Homo sapiens: one gene and its partners. The protein of the gene in region 3 purifies or fractionates together with the protein of the main gene of each other region. This does not show direct contact. Each region holds a gene or a part of one and is shown on either strand. Other genes may lie near its edges. The genes, in order: PAXBP1, NCBP3 and RSRC1.

Region 1 (7,140 bases), on a different chromosome or scaffold from region 3:
TGCTGCATGTTAATACCAGGCTAAAGTTTCAAAACGCATTTATCATGTCACCATCTTGGCAAGCCACTGTAGCAAATGTAAACCCTTACTGGATACTGAACATCCTTCACAATCTGTCAACGTATCTTTCACATGAAACTTCTAACTACTTCCTTCACAAATCATCTACTCTGACCTGTCAGGTGTACTTGTTCTTTTCCAAAACAGCTTTAGTCATTTTAATCCTTGATCATACCCCCAATACCTTCCCTTTCGGAATTTTAACTATCAAAGATCCATCTTCGAGTCCCACTTTTTCCATAAAGCAGTCCTCTCTCCTCTGAAAGAGTAGCCACCCTTTGGAACACTGATTGAACATTTTGCCAAACACTGAGTCCTCTTACACATTTATGAGATATTGTCTTCACATCTAGATTGTAAATTTGAGATACAAAGCCATACTTTTTCACAATAAGCCTGTAAGTGAGAATCTGGAAAATCATGATTTTCTCATTAATTCCATAAAATAAAATAGCATTTGCAGGAGAATAACTCAGACCATAGAATATTATACTGGATCCACTTTCCTAAAGACAAAATAACCGCTTAAAATTTTTTAAACTGAGGTTTTGAGAGACGTAAGAGATGTCTGTACAATATACCTGCCTCATTATTCTAAGGAGTCTTCATCTAGTATCAGATAAGGCTGCTGAATGGGAGTAATACTAATATTAAATTTAGGGCATTCCTAAAAGTTCTCTAAGAATAAAATCCACTGTGGAAATACCACCAAAGAAATCGCAAATCTGTCTCTACAAAATACAAGAATTTGCACAACACTCCTTCAAACAGAAATAAACCTGTGTCTTAGGCTAAAATGAGAAACCTTCTTTCTCTGTTCAACAGCAGTCTGCACACAAGTAGGAAAACTGTGAGAGAATCTAGTCATTGCAGCAGAAATGTTCCAGTGGCAACAATTCTGTCTTCTTATAAAATACATTTACAAAGCATCTGTGTTACAATTAAATAACAGAACTGTACTGCTACTCAATAAGGGCCCTTGACAACCACAGGGTCCACTGAATGAGTTCAGAAGATATACAGCAAATCACTGTGAGAAAGAGCTTTCATTTTGTCATTTCAAAAGAATTCAATTAGTTTGGTACTTACTTTCAGCTGATGAGTTGAGTTCTGTCTTAATCTTCGATTTTTCAAGATCTTCTTTATATTCCTTCTTGAGCAATTTTACTATCTTTTTGCTATAACTTGATTTCTTCACTTTGAAAACTTCTTCATTTTCTTAAAAAGGAAATTAAATGAAGTCTGTAGCAACTATTTTCTGAAAATATTTTCCCTTCTTTCACATGATCTTACGTGCTGTCCAAATTATCCCAAATATATATACTCATATGCCAAAATCATTGTATAATTATTTCAAGTCTGTCACAGACTCAAAAACAGAGGTCAACTTCCTAAATTACTGTGAAGTAATGAGATTTTTGAGACTTTTTAAAGGAATAGCACATGTAACTTCACAAAATTTTCCTATTATTGTCGTCCTTAAATCATCTATTTGAGAGGGGAAAAAATCATTCAAAATGTTTCTGAAAAACCACATCACCAAGTTATTAACGAATCCGAAACAAAATATCTAAAATAAAAAGGTGCTGTCAATTCTGAGTAACTACATCCACCACAAGCTGACATAGTGGTTTTAAAGCTAAGGTAAGGGCAAATCACTTTTCTTTGATTTGAAATTTTAAAAGTACTAAATACTTAAAAAAAAATAGCTCATGTATCTCAAAAACAAAAATCTGTCTGTACTCCTCTCAAACCAAATAAAGAGTAACAGAAATGCCAAAGATAAACTACCTACCTTACTGGAAACCTCTCGAATAAAAATGCAAGATTTACAAAACTTAATTTCTTTTTTCGTAACATGGAATTAACTGGGTTATGCACATTCAAATGGTCAGAAGAAAAGATTTAAGGCTCATTTAAGATCAGCAATCTAAAACCACTGCAGCCTGGCCTCCCACAGGAATTGGAGAAACTACCTTGCTTTTACTATTTTTACACCGTCTCGCTTCACTGTTCCCAAAGTCAGTGCGAAGAAGGCTGGGTATCTGCTACCCCTAATTACTTTTATGGGTAAACTGAGGCTCAGCGACTGCAAGGGACTGGCCCAAGGTCACTCAGAACCAGAGCTGCAACTCCAGGCTTCTGTTCCCTCTCCTAGTATTCCTTTTTACAAACTCGGCCTTCATGGTCGAGGATGCCTGGACAGAGCATCCAAGAAGTGTGGGCGCAGTGACCTGCAGAGGGCTCGGAAAGCATGCCAAGAGCAGCCAGGGGACCCACACCAAGTTGGCCCTGAAACACGCCAGGCAGAAAAGAGGCAGGACAGGGAACACCGAATTTCCCCTGAAACACTCTGAATGCCTGATCTGAGCTCCGGCCCCGTGGCAGAGGAGGTGGTTAAGAAAAGGCTGGGGGCAGCGCGGGAACGCGTCCCTTGCCCGAGCAGAAGGCCGGAGGCTGGGGAAGATTCGCAGCCGGTCGGACGGCAGGGGACTCCGTTCCAGGGCTCCGGGGCTGGGCGTCCAGAGAATACGGGGGCGGGGGACGGGGGCCTGCGTCGGGGATGCGGCCGTCTAAGGGCGTCCGAAGCGCGCACTTTACCTTCCTCCTCGTCCTGGAAGCTGAGCAGGCTGGCCCGGGGCACCTCTTTGTTCTCGCGAGGCCTCTTGCGCGGCTTCAGCCCGTTGCCGGGCTCCGCGCCGCCGGGGAAGCCGCCCCCGGCCTCAGCCCCGAGGCCCGGGGTCAGCGCGGAAGGCGGCGACGGCCCCGGGCCCAGCAGCGACTCCCCGCCAGGGGCCCTGTCGCCGCCACCGGGGCCCGCCTCTTCGCCCGTGCCCGGCGGCGGCAACAACGGCGGCGGCTCCTGCTCCTCATCGCGTTCCCGCTCTTCCTCTTCGGAGTCGTTCCGCTTGCGCACGTTCACCCGCCGGGCCTTTCGGAACATCCCCGCGGCCCGCACGGCGGTCGAATACTCGCTTCCACACCGCGGCCCCGGCAGCGCCGAGCTCGTGACGGCGCACGCGCGCTCTCCGGAGCTCCAGCCGGGTCGAGTCCTCTGTTGCTACCGCGCACCCCACGAGCGCGCATGCGCCTATGCTCCCACGCGCTCTCAATACTTGGAGAAAGAGAGAGAGTGAGAGAGAGAGAGAGAGAGAGAGAGAGAGAGAGAGAGAGAGAGAGAGAGAGAGAGAGAGAGAGAGAGAGAGAGAGAGAGAGAGAGAGAGCGAGAGAGAGAGAGAGAGAGAGAGCGAGAGAGAGAGAGAGAGCCCCACACCTCTCGCGAGAGCGTCGGCTCTTTGCATCGCTCTCTGTCGGAGTGGAGTACTATTAGCATGGAACTCTGGTGTTGTTTGACAGGTCACAAAGAGGATCATAGAGATGAGAAGAAAGAGTAGGCTCTGTTGTCCCTCAGACGGCGCTGCTGCAGTGCGTCTTCGCACTTACGCGGAGCGGTAATGTGAGGAAGCCTCCCGCCAAACAGATGAGGGAGGAGGAGGAGGGGAGAGGCCAGAGAGAGAAGCGGCTTTCGGGAAGGAAAGTGTGATCTAGTAGGTGGAATAGTCCTCTCCAAACTTTGACCTGAGGTGTGACTATTGGTAATTACTAGTTATTCTTGAGTAATACTTTGTATTTCTACAGCTTTATAGCTACAGAGCTCTTAGAAAGACATTGAATTTTATTTATGATACAATGTTACTTCAAAGACATTGAATTTCATTTATGGTACAATGTTACTTCAAAGACATTGAATTTCAGTTATGATACAATGTTACCTGGCTTGATGTCCCCCGTTCCCCAGTCTTTCAGGAACAAGGAAAGCAAAAGTGTTTCCGTGTTTTCTAAAGAATGCCAAGTTTGCAAGCAATTCTATGACTAAATACTTTCCAAAGCTTAGTGAGTTTCAGAAACAAGTGGAAGGAAAATAGAGCAGGGGGTGGGGAAGGTTGTGACAGTTCTCAGACTTGCGTGACAAAGCCCTCGCTGGCCACACCTTCACAGGGTGATTGCGCCTAAGGTTGAACTCACCGGCTTTCCCTATCTCATCACCGAACTAGAAGTTTTTCCTTCGGGCATGCACCTGTGCATGCGAATTCATTTTGATGTTTCGAAATTAAAAGGGTATTCGGTAGAGTGAAAAAAATCCACCCATGTCTGGAAGGCTGTTCACTTCCTCAGTGGCAATGTTAACAGTTTCTTATGATCCTCTAAAGATGTTCCATGAACATAAAAGCAAATAAATATGCATATTTTAATGTGTTCCCCTTTTTACACAGATGGTGTGTAAGCTGCATTTTTAGCCTACCGTAGATTGGAGATCGGCCCATATCTGTATATGAAGGGTTGTGTTTTTTTGGTTTTTTGTTTGTTTGTTTTGAGACTAAATTTCGCTCTTGTCGCCCAGGCTAGAGTGCAATGGCGCGATCTCCGCTCACTGCAATCTCCGCCTCCCAGGTTCAAGTGATTCTTCTGCCTCAGCCTCCCTAGTAGCTGGGATTACAGGCACGTGCCACCACGCCCAGCTAATTTATTTTGTATTTTTGTATTTCACTCTGTTGGCCAGGATGATCTCAATCTCTTGACTTCGTGATCCGCCCGCCTCAGTCTCCCAAAGTGCTGGGATTACAGGCGTGAGCCACCGCGCACGGCCGTCTATTTTTTTTTTTAACCCACCTGCGTAGTGATTCATTGTTGGGATATACCGTAATTTATTTAACCAGTTCCATAAACATTGATATTTAGATTATTTCTAGTCTTAATCAGTGCTGTAATGAAAAGCTTTGAAAAACTGTTACATCTGTAGGATGAAATAGAATTGAAATTGCTAGATCTCAATATATGCATTTATGATTTTGCTAATTCTAAATTTCTTTTTATAGAAGTTATGCAGTTTGCACTTATATCAGCAAACATTAGGATGCCTGTTTGCCCACACCATCCTGTAGAAATTTCAGTAAGATTTAAATTCCAGGTTGAAGTGGAAGATCCCGAGCACTCCAAGCATTTCTTTTTATTTTATTTATTTATTTATTTATTATTTGTTTGAGACGGAGTCTTGCTCTATGGCCCAGACTGGAGTGCGGTGGCACGATCTCAGCTCACTGCAACTTCTGTCTCCCATGTTCAAGCTATTGTCATGTCTCAGCCTCCCGGGTAGCTGGGATTACAGGCATCTGGCACCACACCCGGCTAATTTTTGTATTTTTGTTTTGTTTTGTTTTGTTTTTTAAGACGGAGTCTTGCTCTTCTCGCCCAGGCTGGAGTACAATGGCACGATCTCAGCTCACTGCAACCTCTGCCTCCTGTGTTCAAACGATTCTCTTGCCTCAGCCTCCCGAGTAGCTGGGATTACAGGCACCTGGCACCACACCTGGCTAATTTTTGTATTTTTAGTAGAGACGGGGTTTTGCCACGTTGGCCAGGCTGGTCTCAAACTTCTGACCTTGTGATCCGCCTGCCTCGGCCTTCTGAAGTGCTGGGATTAAGGCATGAGCCACCACACCCGGCCTAATTTTTATATTTTTAATTAGATTTGACATGTGCACAACTAGGACTCAGTTTTGGAGCTAAGAGCATCCTCTATAACATTAACATTTTCTTCTAGTTAATAGGAAGGGTTAATAACATCTGGCTTCCATTCTACTTATGTTACTCTCAGTTCTTATATTCTGGCTGTTCAGCATTGGTGTAAGTTCTGATTCCAACAGTGTTTCACTAGTGAAATTGAACTCCCTTTTCTAATCATAGAAGATTCAAATTGTGCCTGATCAGCCTCCAGACACCTGAGCCAAGAGAAAGATTTGCAGTAAAATAATTAGGGTAGAGGTAGCAAAGACAAGGTCCAGAAGCCAAATATGTTATTATGGTGGCCTGAAATTTCAAAAATTTCTCCCAGTGTAAAAGTGGTGATTGGATATGGATAGAGGGAAGAGTACCTCTCATTTTAAAGTAAGCCACAATACAATCACTTGTCACTTGACGGGGATACATTCTGAGAAATATGCCATTAGGCAATTTCATCACATACTTACACAAACCTAGTGGTGTAGCCTACTACATACCTAGGCTGTATGGCATAGCTTATTGCTTCTAGGCTACAAACCTATACGGCATGTTACTGTACTGAATACTGTAGCACTTGTAACACAATGGTATCTGTATCTAAACATAGAAAAGATACAGTAAAAATACAGCATAAAAGCTTTAAAAATGGTGCACCTGTATAGGACACTTACCAGGAATGGAGCTTACAGGACTGGAGGTTGCTCTGGGTGAGTCAGTGAGTGAGTGGTAAGTGAATATGAAGGCCTAGGTTATTACTGTACACTGCTGTAGATTTTATAAACAACTGTACACTTAGGCTACACTAAATGTTTAAACATATTTCTTTCTTCAATAATAAATAGCTTACTATAACTTTTTTACTTTATAAGCTTTCTTATTTTTTAAAACTTTTTTGTTGTTATTGTTTTGTTTTGTTTTTGTTTTTTGAGATGGAGTCTCACTCTGTCACCCAGTCTGGAGTGCAGTGGCGCGATCTCAGCTCACTGCAACCTCCACCTCCCAGGTTCAAGCAATGAGACAGAGTCTCACTCTATCCCCAGGCTGGAGTGCAGTGGCGTGATCTCAGCTCACTGCAACCTCTGCCTCCCAGGTTCAAGCAATCCTCCCACCTCAGCTTCCCAAGTAGCTGGGATTATAAGCGTGCACCACCATGCCCAGTTAATGTTTGTATTTTTAGTAGAGATGATCCGCACACCCCACAAGCTCCTGTGTTGGCCAGGCTGGTCTTGAACTCCTGACCTCAAGTAATCTGCCCACCTCGGCCTCCCAAAGTTCTGGGATTGCAGGCATGAGCCAACGTGCCCAGACATTTTTTAAAACTTCTTGACTTTTTTTTTTTTTTTTTTGAGACAGAGTTTTGCTCTTGTTGCCCAGGCTGGAGTGCAGTAGTGCAACCTCAGCTCACCGCAACCTCTGCATCCAGGGTTCAAGAAGTTCTCCTGCCTCAGCCTCCTGAGTAGCCGGGATTACAGGCATGCACCACCACGCCCAACTAATTTTGTATTTTTAGTAAAGACA
Region 2 (7,111 bases), on a different chromosome or scaffold from region 3:
CAGTTTTAACCTCATTCGTCTCTGTATTTTGCTTTATCCCCTCTACACTGCATTGCTGTAGTGGGCACTCAGAGTGTGAATGTTGGTAGTGGATTTTTACTTTTTGTTGGCAAATTGCGCTGATCTGATTCCAGCTATGGAAAACATTAAAAAAAAAATTCAACATTGTCTTTACACTCACAGGAAATCCTAGGTAACTATTGTCATTAATTTTTAGATGACAAAAAGGAACTTGGAGCAGCCAGAAGAAGTCAGTATTACATGAAATATGGGAATCCAAATTATGGAGGCATGAAAGGAATTCTTAGCAATTCATGGTGAGTCCAAAACCTTCAAATGCAATAGTATTTGAGTTTTTCTTAATCCTTCAGTTGGTATTCCGTGGTGAAATGTCTAAACCCTGTGTAAACTGGAAGGAAAACAAGAGGGAAGAATTCAAGATTCTTAGATGTGGTAAATGATGGGGAATGCTGAATTGTAGTTACATTTAAAATATCTGTGTTAGTACCTAACATTGTGTCAACGTGTAGTTGAAATGAATTAGCGAGCCCAGACATGGTGGCTCACGCCTGTAATCCCAGCACTTTGGGAGGCCGAGGCCAGCAGATCACCTGAGGTCAGGAGTTCGAGACCAGCCTGGCCAACATGGTGAAACCCCGTCTCTACTAAAAATACAAAAATTAGCCATGCATGGTGGTGGGCGCCTGTAATCCCACCTACTCGGGAGGCTGAGGCAGGAGAATTGCTTGAACCCAAGAGGCAAAGGTTGCAGTGAGCTGAGATGGTGCCATTGCACTTCAGCCTGGGAGAGAGATTGAGACTCCATCACAAAAAAAAAAGAAAAGAGAAAGAAATAGTGGATTTCAAGGTCCTTCCTATCAGTTTTTGATTGTGTGCTTATTTTGGCATTCTTGCAGGAAGCGAAGATATCATTCCCGTCGTATTCAGCGGGACGTGATCAAGAAGAGAGCCCTGATTGGGGATGACGTTGGCTTGACGTCGTATAAACATCGACATTCTGGTAGTTGCCTGCTCAGCTCTTGGGTAGACACATGTTTGGCTCCTGAAATCATATTTTTATTCTTAATGCAATCTTTTAAGGTTCCAAACTTTATCATCCTCTCTTCCTTGCCCTCACCCTCTGCCAACATATAGGAAAGTAAGTCAAGTCACAATTAATTTTAAGTTGCCCAAAGAGGTCAAATGATTTTATAAAAGCTGTTCTATCAAAAAAGGCAAAATATGACATAGGAAAAATTAAAACAAAACTTTCCTTAGGATCCTAATTTTTCTACTATTAATATCAACAGCTGCATGAAAACAATTTTTTTTTTTTTTTTAAGACGGAGTCTCGCTCTGTCTCTCAGGCTGGAGTGCAATTGCTTGATCTCGGCTCACTGCAACTCTGCCTCCTGGATTCAAGCAATTCTCCTGCCTTAGCCTCCCGAGTAGCTGGGACTACAGGCATGCGCCACCATGCCCAGCTAACTTTTGTATTTTTAGTAGAGATGGGGTTTCACCATGTTGGCCAGGCTGGTCTCGAACTCCTGACCTTGTGTTCCACCCACTTTGGCCTCCCAGAGTGCTGGGATTACAGGTGTGAGCTACCGCGCCTAGCCAAAAACAATTTTTGAAATTATTTTATCAGATGAACTGATTGTATTGTTCTTTTTCTGTATTAAAAATAGGCTGCTGTGTTGAGTGCTTTGTGCTTGTTGGTTTGTGCATGTGAATGCCTCAGAAGAGTGGGATATCATGACTTGGGTTTCTTTCTCCTTTTTTTGGTGCTTATTGTAAAAGAACCATTTTATTTATGTTTTATAAAGAATTGTTCTTGTTTTGAGCCTAATCTATGGAATCTTCTACATGCCTAATAGAACTAGTCAAGTCAGCATACAAAATAACATATACACACATTTATCATTGTAATGGGGACAGAAAGGGATGAAGTCTAGATGTTTTATTTAATGTGTATATACAAAATTGTATATTTGAGATCTACATGTTAATAATACACATAGGATGGGAACAGTGGCTCACACCTATAATCCCAGCACTTTGGGAGGCCAAGGCAGGAGGATCACTTGAAACCAGGAGTTTGAGACCAGCCTGGGCAACATAGTGAGACCTTGTCGTTACAAAAAATTAAAAAATTAGCCAGACCAGGCATGATGGCACATACCTGTGGTCCCAGCTACTTGGGAGGCTGAGATTGCCTGAGCCTGGAAGGTCAAGGCTGCAGTGAGCCAAGATTGTGCCACTGTATTCCAACCTGGGCGACAGAGCAAGACTTTGTCTCAAAATAATAATAATAATACACATACTTTACTGTTACACAGTTACACTTTTCCAATTTGAGTTACTTTAAAATATTTTCATCATATACTTTTTATATCCATATTAAGGAAATTAAAAAGCAAATTGCCCCTATTTCTAGTACCCTGTATGATGACTGAGTTCATCTTACATTTTTCCCATTTGTTTTCATAATAAATAGTATAACTCTTGGGAACATGTACTTTATATTCTACTTCTTTCGTTTATTGTATTTTTCCATTTTCATTATTCATGGTGCTTATGTTCTATAAAGTCACTGTGAACACTGAAGTAGCAAATACTGAATCGTACATAGCCTCTGGCCACATCATTTTTGTCAGTTGATCAATATGTAACCTTGTTTTACATATGTTTCTCTCTTTTTTTTTTTTTTGAGACAGAGTCTTGCTCTGTTGCCCAGGCTGGAGTGCAGTGGCGCGATCTCGGCTCACTGCAACCTCCGCCTCCCGGGTTCACGCCATTCTCCTACCTCAGCCTCCCGAGTAGCTGGGACTACAAGCGCACACCACCATGCCCGGCTAATTTTTGTTGTATTTTTTAGTAGAGACAGGGTATTAGCATGTTAGCCAGGATGGTCTCGATTTCCTGACCTCGTGATCTGCCCACCTCGGCCTCCCAAAGTGCTGGGATTACAGGCGTGAGCCACCGCGCTGGGCCCATATGTTTCTCTTTAAGACACCTTATTTAAGACACATTGTTGATTCGTTAACATTGAGTTCACAGCCAGTAGCCCTATAACTCATGCCTGAATGCCTTACCTGATATGGTATTTTTCCACAAGGCACATCACAGCCCCCTTGCATCTAGGAACACTAGGCAGCACTTCGGCACGACACTCAGGGCCATTTTAAGCAGTGAAATCACTAGCAGCAGGCACAGAAGTGTGAAAAATGTGCCACTCGGTGGACTGAAACAGACGCTTGTTTACAGCATGAGATGAAACAGGAAGGTGGAGTGTTGCTTTGTTTGACCTCCACTGGGAGTGTGTGTGCCTGGTGACTCAGATTTTTTTGCCACTCTGTGCGTGCCAGCAAATGACCATGGAAGCATTGCACGTATTCATTTTGGAGTTACAAATAAATTTGGTAAATTTGCAAATACAAAATCTGTGAATAATAAAGGTCAGTTGTATTTTAAATGACTTTATGGTATTTGGTTAGGCTGCTGCATCATACTTTACCTAGCCATCCTCCTGTTGCAGTATCAGAGTAATGTCCATTTGGCACTATTATAGATAGTGCTCCAATAAAATGTCAGGGATGGGAACCCCACCTTTTAAAAAGGTCACCGATGTAGAGTAGAAAATCATACTTGTTAATTTTAGTGCTTTTCCTAATGTTTTCTGGTTAAATTTCTTCAGGGCTAGTGAATGTTCCCGAGGAACCCATTGAAGAGGAGGAAGAGGAGGAGGAGGAGGAAGAGGAAGAGGAAGAAGAAGACCAGGACATGGATGCAGATGACAGAGTGGTGGTAGAGTACCACGAGGAGCTCCCGGCTCTCAAGCAGCCCCGGGAGCGGAGCGCGTCTAGACGATCCAGTGCCAGCAGCTCAGACTCAGATGAAATGGACTATGATCTAGAACTGAAAATGATTTCCACGCCTTCACCAAAGAAAAGCATGAAAATGACTATGTATGCTGACGAAGTGGAATCTCAGTTGAAAAATATTAGGTAAAAATTTGTTTTATCAAAGCTAGCTTTTAATTTGATTTTAAATACTAGTATAACTTCTTAATTCCTCCTAATTTTATAATATCTTTTATCTATTCTGATTTCAGTCCCTTGTAGGAGTTTAATAAACGCATCCAGTATTTCCTCTATACAAGCAGTGATTCTTGTTATAAAAACAAAAGACAACATAGAAAGTGAAAATCATCTGTATTCCCATTCTTTCTCAACAATAACTACTGTTAGCAATTTGGCGAATAACCTTTCAGCTATTTGTGTGTGTGTGTGTGTGTGTGTGTATGGCACAGGGAAAAGCTGTAGATATATTTGTATAAAAGTATACTTTTTATAAAGATGAGGTTATGCTATTTATAGTTTTGCATTGTGCATTTTTCACTTAATATATTGTAGACATTATTTTTTTCAACTGTATATAGTCTGTTGTTTGAAAGTATCATGATTTATTTAACGAATTCCTTTTTGATGGACTTTAGGTTTCTATTTTCTTACAATTGCACTAACTCAATAAATTCCTCAAAGTCCAGTTATTACACAAAACAATATGTGTTTAAAAAGATGGTAAGTATTGCTTTATTTTTTTCCAGAAGGGTTTTTTGTGTGTTTTTATTTTTTTTTTGAGACGGAGTCTCGCTCTGTCACCCAGGCTGGAGTGCAGTGGCGCGATCTCGGCTCACTGCAAACTCCGCCTCCCAGGTTCACGCCATTCTCCTGCCTCAGCCTCCCGAGTAGCTGGGACTACAGGCGCCTGCCACTACTCCTGGCTAATTTTTTGTAATTTTAGTAGAGACGGGTTTCAGCATGTTGGCCAGGATGGTCTCAATCTCCTGACCTCGTGATCCACCTGCCTCAGCCTCCCAAAGTGCTGGGATTACAGGCATGAGCCACCATGCCCGGGCTCAGAAGGGTTTTAATCCCAGAAGGGTTTTAATCACTCACATTACCACCTGTTACCTACAAGCTCACCAGCCTTAGCTATTACCATTCTTTCTAATGCTAGCTAGTTTCATGAACAAAAAAAAAATAGTTATTTTAATGTGCATGTCTTTGATTACTACTAGGGGTGAGCAGATTCTGTGCAGGCAGAATCCACAGTTCTAAGGGTTAGAGTCTAGGGATGCTCTGTGTAACGTAGTATGTTTGTGGGGAGGGGAAAAGACCATTCAAGCTGATTTGTTTGTATGGCCTTGTTCACCACGTTCTTTTTTTTTTTGAGACGGAGTCTCGCTCTGTCGCCCAGCCTGGAGTGCAGTGGAGCGATAACACGATCTCGGCTCACTGCAAGCTCCGCCTTCTGGGTTCACAGCATTTTCCTGCCTCAGCCTCCCGGGGAGCTGGGAGTACAGGCCACCACGCCCAGCTAATTTTTTGTATTTTTAGTAGAGACTGGGTTTCACCATGTTAGCCAGGATGGTCTCGATCTCCTGACCTCGTGATCCGCCCGCCTCAGCTTCCCAAAGTGCTGGGATTACAGGCATGAGCCTGTTCACATTCTTATTTTTGGTTTTCAGAGAGCTTTCTGGTAGAGAATGCTGCCGGAACGGTGCTGGCACCTAGCATGATAGCATATCTCTTTGAAAGAGAAGTCTGCCCTTTAAAGAGAGAGACTGTAGACTATACTGTGTGTTGACTACAGCCACATCACAGCATGTGTAAGTGGAAGCCCCAATCTCTTTGTAGGCCTCTACTTAACGTTTGTCCCAGAAAAGGGGGACTTGTAGTTGTATGCTGTGTAATAGCACATACACATGTGGAAACCACCTTCGAAAACCTGCTCACCAGAACCAGTCTCTTTAGAGCAGGCAGATCATGGTTTCCATAAGCAAATAATTATAAGTTTATGGATTTGTAAGTGAATGTTGGCCATGTAAGACAGGATTTCTTAAATTGTTTCCTCCAAAGTATGAGATTGTTGTTTGGGTCTTGTCTCACAGTTGAAGTTGGTTAACTGTGCCCCATCCTACCCCCTTTTTAAAGGAACTCCATGAGGGCAGATAGTGTATCTTCAAGCAATATCAAAAACCGAATTGGTAACAAATTACCACCTGAGAAATTTGCAGATGTCCGACATCTATTAGATGAGAAACGTCAGCACTCCCGTCCACGGCCACCAGTCAGCAGTACTAAATCAGGTACTGTTCCTCACTTGGATTCCTGGCTGGATTCTGAGCTCCGGAAAGCAGACTGGGGCAGAGAGAGGTTCCTGAGTAAAACATGCGATGTGTGAACTGATTTAGCTGTCCTGGTTCATCATGTCTAAATTGTGGGCTAGGTGTTGGAAATTGAGGAAATGAAAAATAATCAGACTTCTGAAAAACTAGCTTTAAATGTTTTTATTCCAAATAATTACAGTTGTTCCTTGGTATGTCTGGGGGCTTGCTTCCAGGACCCCCTCCCCGCCCCCTACAGATACCAAAATCCATTGATGCTTAAGTCCCTTATATAAAGTGACATATTATCTGCATATAACCTACACACATCCTCTCATATACTTTAAGTCATCTCTAGATTATTTACAATACCTAATACGGTATAAATTCTTATCCTGTGTTGTGTAAAATTTGTATTATTTTTTGCTGTACTCTTATGTCTTACTTTTTTTCCACATGTATTCGATCAGCAGTTGGTTGAATCTATAGATGTGGAATCCATGGATGAGGAGGGCCAACCATATTTTCCTCTGTATGACACTGGTATACTTTATATACAAGAATAATAGAAATTAAGTTCGGTGGTTGTCTGAACAGTTAAGAGTTTGAACTAGATAATTTCTATGTTCAAACACTGATTCAGCAGGTCTTTAGCCGTACCTGCTATGTGCCAGACCCTGGTCTAGGTGCTAGGAATGTGAGAAGCCTTTGGAGGGGACGCAGAGCCGTCATAGATCTACTCGGGAAGTTGTGAAAGACTTCTTAGAGAAAGTAGCATTAGAGCCAGGCCTTGGAGAGGGTAGGATCTCTGTTGGCAAACCTGATTTTTTTACATGAGAAGTAACCTGATCTTACATCTATTTTAGAAAGACAACTTGAGGGTGGAGTGGGGTGGGGTAGAGAGTTAAAAAAGTAACAAGAGCCTGAACTAGGTCGGTG
Region 3 (7,111 bases):
TTTGTGTCTTTGCTATTGTGAATAATGCTGCAGTGAACATAAACGTGCATGTGTCTTTATAACAGAATGATTTCTATTCCTTTGGATATATACCCAGTAATGGGATTGCTGGGTCAAATGGTATTTCTGGTTCTAGGTCTTTGGGGAATCACCACACTGCTGATTCCTCAAAGTATCACCCGTTCTGGACAATGCCTGTGACATCATCTTCCACAATGGTTGAACTAATTTACATTCTCACCAACAGTTTATTAATAAAAGTGTTCCTGTCTCTCCACAGCCTTGCCAGCATCTGTTGTTTTTTGACTTTTTTTTTTTTTTTGAGACGGGAGTCTCACTCTGTCACCAGGCTGGAGTGCAGTGGTGCGATCTCGGCTTACTGCAACCTCTGACTCCCTGGTTCAAGCAACTCTCCTGCCTCAGCCTCCTGAGTAGCTGGGATTACAGGCACGCTTCACCACGCCCAGCTAATTTTTGTATTTTTAATAGAAACAGGGTTTCACCATGCTGGCCAGGATGGTCTCCATCTCCTGACCTCGTGATCCACCCCCCTCAGCCTCCCAAAGTACTAGGATTACAGGTGTGAGCCACTGTGCCAGGCCATTTCTTGACTTCTTAATAATTGCATTCTGACTGGCATGAGATGATATCTCATTGTAGTTTTGATTTGCATTTCTCTAATGATCAGTGATGTTGAGTTTTTTCTCATATGTTTGTTGGCTGCATAAATGACTTCTTTTGAGAAGTGTCTGTTCATGTTCTTTGCCCATTTTTTAATGGGATTCCTTTTTTTTTCTTGCAAATTTGTTTAACTTCCTTATAGACTCTGGATATTAGACCTTTGTCAGTTGTATAGGTTGCAAAAATTTTCCTCTATAGATTGTCTGTTCGTTCTGATGATAATTTCTTTTGCTGTGCAGAAACTCTTTAGTTTAATTAGATCCCATTTGTAATTTTTGTTTTTGTTGCAATTGCTTTTGACGTTTTTGCCATGAAATCTTTGCCCGTGCCTTTGTCCTGTATGGTATTGCCTAGATTTTCTTCTAAGGTTTTTATAGTTTTGGGTTTTACATTTAAGTCTTTAATCTATCTTGAGTTAATTTTTTGTGTAAGATATAAGGAAGGGGTCCACTTTCAATTTTCTACATATGGCTAGCCAGTTCTCCCAGTACCATTTATTAAATAGGGAGTCCTTTCCTCATTGCTTGTTTTTGTCAGGTTTGTCAAAGAACAGATGGTTGTAGATGTGCGGTCTTATTTCTGAGTTGTCTATTCTGTTCCATTGGTCTATGTGTCTGTCTTTATACTAGTACCATGCTGTTTTGGCTACTGTAGCCTGGTAGTATAGTTTGAAGTCAGGTAGCATGATGCCTCCAGCTTTGTTCTTTTTGCTAAGGATTGTCTTGGCTATATGGGCTCTTTTTTGGTTCCATATGAATTTTGAAATAGTTTTTTTTTCTGATTCTGTGAAGAATGTTAATGGTAGTTTGATGGGAATAGCATTGAATCTTTAGGTCACTTTGGGTGGTATTGCCATTTTCACGATATTGATTCTTCCTATCTGTGAGCATGGAACGTTTTTCCACTTGTTTGTGTCCTCTCTGATTTCCTTGAGCAGTGGTTTGTAGTTCTCCTTGAAGAGGTCCTTCACTTCCCTTGTTAGCTGTATTCCTAGGTATTTTATTCTTTTTATAGCAGTTGTAAATGGGAGTTCATTCATGATTTGGCTCTCTGCTTGTCTGTTGTTAGTGTATAGGAATGCTAGTGATTTTTGCACATTGATTTTGTATCCTGAAACATTACTGAAGTTGCTTGTCAGCTTAATAAGCTTTTGAGCTGAGATGATTAGGTTTTCTAGATATAGGATTATGTCATCTGCAAAGACGATTTGACTTCCTGTCTTCCTATTCGAATACCCTTTGTTTTTTTTCTCTTGCCTGATTGCTGTGGCCAGAGTTTTCAATACTATGTTGAATAGGAGTGGTGAGAGAGGACATCCTTGTCTTGTGCTGGTTTTCAAGAGGAATTCTTCCAGCTTTTTCTCATTCCGTATGATATTGGCTGTGGGTTTGTTGTAAATGGCTCTTGTTATTTTGAGGTATGTTCCAAGGAAGGACTTTTGTTATCTTTCATTAACCTGTGTTAAATGTAATCAACCAGCCTTCTATTATGGATAAATTATGTTGTTTGTAATTAGAACAAATAAAAAATTTATACTCGCCTTCTCCTGTTCTCTCTTTTTGGTCACCCCCAAGACAGATAGATCTGTGTCCCTTCCTTTTTTTCTGCTTGTTTGTGCCTTACTCAGAGATGTAGTATAAAGGACAGAAATAGAGAATGGGAATGACTGTAGGTATCTTAGAGCAGAGGTTCTCAAACATTTTAGTCTTAGGGTCTCTTTACACTCTGAAACATTGTTGAGGACTCCAATAACATTTATTTGGATTATATCTATGAATATTTACCTTATTAATTAAAACGAAATTTTGAAATCTTCATGAATTCATTTAATAACAATAAACCCAAAATATGGTAACATAAATAGTATCTTTGATATGAAAAATAACTGTGTTTTCCAAAACAAACTTAGTGAGAAAAGTGGCCTATTTTCCTTTTTTGCAAATCTCTAATGTCTGGTTTAATAGAAGATGGCTGGATTCTCATATCTGCTTCTTCATTCAATCCACTGAGATAAATTGTTTTGATTGAAGTTTGTGAAGCAAATCTGGCTTTACTCAGATAAGTGTTTTAGTAACCCTTTTCAGGTAATTATGTCTTTCGTATTACACCAAAAATTGATTGTGTTAATTTCTTGAAGTTCTGTTTTAATATGGTTTTTGAAACCATATGGATAACCTTTGGTACTCCATTATGTTAAAATCTATTGGTCTGACTTACACTCTGAGTGGATCTTTACCCACGCATGGTTTTGTGACATTTTGCATTGGCCATTTGGAAAATATTGGCTCACTGAGTTAGGCATATCTTTCTAATGTTAACACCCTTCATTATATATCAAAAATTCATGTTTGTTAATGTCACCGATGATCTCGGAAGTTTTTAAGTATTCAGAAGCTATCATTCTCATGGTGGCAATACAAATTATCTAAAATTCAAATTTTTGCTTGCAAGCTTGAATTTTATCATCAGCAATGAATACTCTTTTCCTTGAAATGGAAGGATCCCTTCATTTTCAAGAAAAGGTTTTCCAGATACTCAAGTCTGCATAATTATAGTGAGTTTTTAAAATAAAATAATGTTTCATAATAAAAGCAGCTAATTCAAGTTGCAATTCAGTTACACAAATGCTTGTTCTTGAAATAACCAGCGTTCTTCAATATATGGCAGAAGTTATGTGTATCTCTCATTTCATAAGAATATTAAAAAGATGTGTATGTACTCGAGTGGAAATTTAGTAAAATTTATGATTTTTACTGCTTTATTGAGGACATTCTTAATTGAAATTGCTTTTTTTTTTAAACTGTGACTGTATGGCAGTGAGGGATACAGTGACTACTAAGTATAATTTGGTGCCTCTGCCTTGATTTGTGCTAAGGTGCCAGCAGTTTTGTCCACTATTACTTTTGCACCATCAGTGCAAAAGTCAGCACAATGAAAAAGGTAAATAATGTTTTAGTGTTACAGTGAATATAGTTTTGACTTCTTGAGTCCCCTGAAAAGTGTTGTAGAGATCCCCAAGGGTCTACAGGCCTCATTTTGAAAATCGCTGGTACTAGAATGTAAGCTTCTATAGGGAAAGGATTTTTTTTTTCTTGTTTATTGATGTATTGCTTATATGCTATCAGTCTGGGATGTCTTTCGTATCTTCAGTATAAGATTACTTATATTTTGAATCTGGGTTGTCTGTTGTGATACTCTTCTTTTCATGGAGCACACTGTCGAGTAACTTCATGAAAAGGGGAGAGTGTGGGGTATAATTTTGAGACCTTACATGTCTGAAAATGTCTTTATTCTAATCTCGTAGCAGAACAGTGATTTGGCTGGATAGAGATTCTAGGTTGAGATTCATTTTCTCAGCATTTTAAAGGCTAGTCTCCGTTGTTTTCTGTGTTGTGAAAACCCATATGCCTTTTATTGTGCTACCCATATTTTTTTATCTTTAGAAATTTCTAGGCTCTTCTGTATATTCCTGGTGTCTAAAGTTTTTATGAGATATACTGGGTATGTCTTTTTAGAAAAATCATTGTCCCAGGGACTTAGGGCAATTCATCTTTCAATTCTGGAACTTTGAAACAAGGACTTATTCTGTCACCCAGACTAGAGTGCAGTAGGGTGATTGCAGCTCACTGCAGCCTGGACCTTCTGGGCTCAGGTGATCCTGCTGCCTCAGCCCCCTCAAGTAGCTGGGACTACAGGTGTGCACCACCATGCTCAGCTGATTTTTTGTAGAGACAGGGGTTTCACCATGTTGCCCAGGCTGGTCTCAAACTCCCTGGGTTCAAGCAATCCACCCACTTCGGCCTGCCAAAGTGCTGATATTACAAATGTGAGCCACCATGCCTGGCCTGGAAATTTAATTTTTGGGTAATTTTTTTTTGTCCCTTTTCTCCTGTTTTTAAAGACAGGATCTCACCCTATCACCCAGGCTGGGGGTGCAGTGGTGGGATTATACCTCACTAGAGCTTTGAACTCCTGGGGTCAAGGTGTCCTCCCATTTCAGCGTTCAGAGTAACTGGGACTACCGGCTTATGCCATTATGCTGAGCTTTTCTATTCTTTTTTTTTTATAGAATGCGTATCTGGTGCATTTTGGACTTCCAGATTGATCCTCTTCTGTTTGTAAAATGTCTGTCTCTTTTTCTTTCTTTCTTTCTTTCTTTCTTTCTTTTTTTGAGTCCTTTAACCTCTTTTCCAACCTTATTGTTTTTGTTGTCTGTTTTTTTGAGGCTGGGTCTCGCTCTGTCTCCCAGGCTGGAATGCAGTGGCACAATGTTGGCTCACTGTAGCCTCGCCCACTTGGGCTCCGGTGATCCTCCTGCCTCAGTCTCCTGAGTAGCTGGTACTACAAGTATGCATCACCACGTCCAGCTAATTTTTGTATTTTTTGTGGAGACCAGTTTTCACCATGTTGGCGGGGCTGGTCTCAAACTCCTGGACTCAAGTGATCTGTTTGCCTTGGCTGCCCAAAGTGCTGGGATTACAGGCGTGAGCCACCGTGCCTGGCCTTAATTTTAAATTTTTTTAGAGACAACATCTTGCTCTGTCACTCAGGCGGGAGTGCAGCGGTGCAGTCATATCTTTTGGACTCAAGGGATCCTCCCACCTCAGCTTCCTGAATAGCTAGTACTAGAGGCATGTGCCACCATGCCTAGCTAAGTACCTGGCCTTCTGTGTGTGTGTGTGTGTGTGTGTGTGTGTGTGTGTGTGTGTGTGTGTGTGCGCGTGCGCGTGGTTTTTTTAAATTGTCCTTTGTTAAAATTTTAAGCTATCTGTCCTATTCTCCAAATGTTCCTCCTAGTCTTGTTTGCTGGATCATCCTGTCATATGCATCTGAGGATATTAGCTGTTATTTTTGTTCTTGAAGTTTTCTTCTGTATGTTCTGGTTTACTATCATTTGCTTTTTTTCTTTCTGTTTTAGTTTCTGTCTTTTATGGTGAAGGCTTTCATCATGTTTGCTTATATTTTGTTGTATATTCAGCAAAAAGTTAACAGAAAAAATGTTTACAGAAAAATGTTATAAATACAGTTGTAACCTGTATTTAAGGTTTGGACTTGTCAACTAGTAGGCTTCATTATAGGGTGATTGGGTGGGGGCCTGCCCTTTTTGGGGGGAACCCTCAAATGCTTATATATCTTTTCTTAGGTGTTGTTCAGTTTTTGCAGATATTCAAGAATCCTCTTGAGGATAGCACACAGAGGGCTATGACTTTTCTATTTGATTATAGACTTTAACTTAACTTAATCTCTTTAACTTTTAGTTTGGCATCTCTGTCTTTTTTTACTGTGTCCTTGGACCTGGTGCTTCTTTGATTCATTTTTCTCCCCAAAATAAACGTTCTCTCCTCTGAGGATTGGGGAAGAGTATCACCTGGCTGGGTAGAATGGAGGGACTCAGGGACACTATTACATAAATTCAATCAATTTTTTTTTTGTTTTTAGCCTCATGGCCTCATTGTGCCTGCTCTGGTATCTGGTGTCTTAAATTCCTGATCCTTTCTGATTTTTGCTATGTGAATTTGCTTTTCTCTTGTTGGAATTCTCTACAGTTGCCTGATAATAAGTTTTCTTAGCTCTAAATTCTCCATGTGTTTTTCACTTGCCAAAAGTTTGTTGACATATCTCATGTTCCTGTTGTTTTCTAGTCTCTATCCTTTCAAATTTATACTTTTTAATTTCTTTAATCTTATTTTGGTATTTTTTAAAACAAGATAGCAAGATAGTAAAAGCTCATCTTAATTTAAATGGTTATTTGTTTGTGAGGAACATTCTTAAATGATTAAAGGTAAAAACAAGAAAGGAATTAAAAGCCAAGAAATGAAATTATTATCATTCAATTGTGTACATATTTCTTAACATGGATATAAGTATATGTGTGTGTGTATAATATACACACATACATATGTGGGTATCTATTTGATATATATAATGGATATATGTATATATTTTATGTATAAATGGATATGGACACATGTGAATTTATATGTATGTACAGATATACCTTATATACATCTGAATTATGTTTGTATTTAAATGTATGTTTGTATTTACATATATATACATGTTGTATATATTTATAATTTCATAGTCTTTTTTTTTTTTTTTTGAGATAGAGTCTCGCTCTGTCACCCAGGCTGGAGTGCAATGGCACTATCTCGGCTCACTGCAACCTCCGCCTCCCAGGTTCAAGCGATTCTCCTGTCTCAGACTACTGAGTAGCTGAGACTACAGGCGCATGCCACCACGCCCAGCTACTTTTTGTGTTTTTAGTAGAGATGGGGTTTCACCATGTTGATCAGGCTGGTCTCGAACTCCTGACCTCAGGATCCGCCCGCCTCGGCCTCCCAAAGTGCTGGGATTACAGGCGTGAGCCACTGCACCTGGCCACTTTCATAGTCATTTTAAAGCTGGAAAGTGTCGTGGTAATCTTTTA

Evidence for each region.
Region 1: the proteins of RSRC1 (region 3) and PAXBP1 purify together in Homo sapiens (affinity purification with mass spectrometry; 3 studies listed by BioGRID and IntAct, with this or other methods). This does not show direct contact.
Region 2: the proteins of RSRC1 (region 3) and NCBP3 purify together in Homo sapiens (affinity purification with mass spectrometry; 3 studies listed by BioGRID and IntAct, with this or other methods). This does not show direct contact.

What each region holds. Positions count from the first base shown.
Region 1 is NC_000021.9:32,768,665-32,775,804, forward strand, and holds the start of PAXBP1 (PAX3- and PAX7-binding protein 1), read right to left. Parts: upstream 3,092-7,140; 5' UTR 3,005-3,091; coding exon 2,662-3,004; intron 1,279-2,661; coding exon 1,150-1,278; intron 1-1,149. UniProt on the Homo sapiens protein: Adapter protein linking the transcription factors PAX3 and PAX7 to the histone methylation machinery and involved in myogenesis.
Region 2 is NC_000017.11:3,815,159-3,822,269, reverse strand, and holds part of NCBP3 (nuclear cap-binding protein subunit 3), read left to right. Parts: intron 1-217; coding exon 218-317; intron 318-917; coding exon 918-1,021; intron 1,022-3,697; coding exon 3,698-4,007; intron 4,008-5,999; coding exon 6,000-6,154; intron 6,155-7,111. UniProt on the Homo sapiens protein: Associates with NCBP1/CBP80 to form an alternative cap-binding complex (CBC) which plays a key role in mRNA export. NCBP3 serves as adapter protein linking the capped RNAs (m7GpppG-capped RNA) to NCBP1/CBP80.
Region 3 is NC_000003.12:158,113,065-158,120,175, forward strand, and holds part of RSRC1 (serine/Arginine-related protein 53), read left to right. Parts: intron 1-7,111. UniProt on the Homo sapiens protein: Has a role in alternative splicing and transcription regulation. Involved in both constitutive and alternative pre-mRNA splicing. May have a role in the recognition of the 3' splice site during the second step of splicing.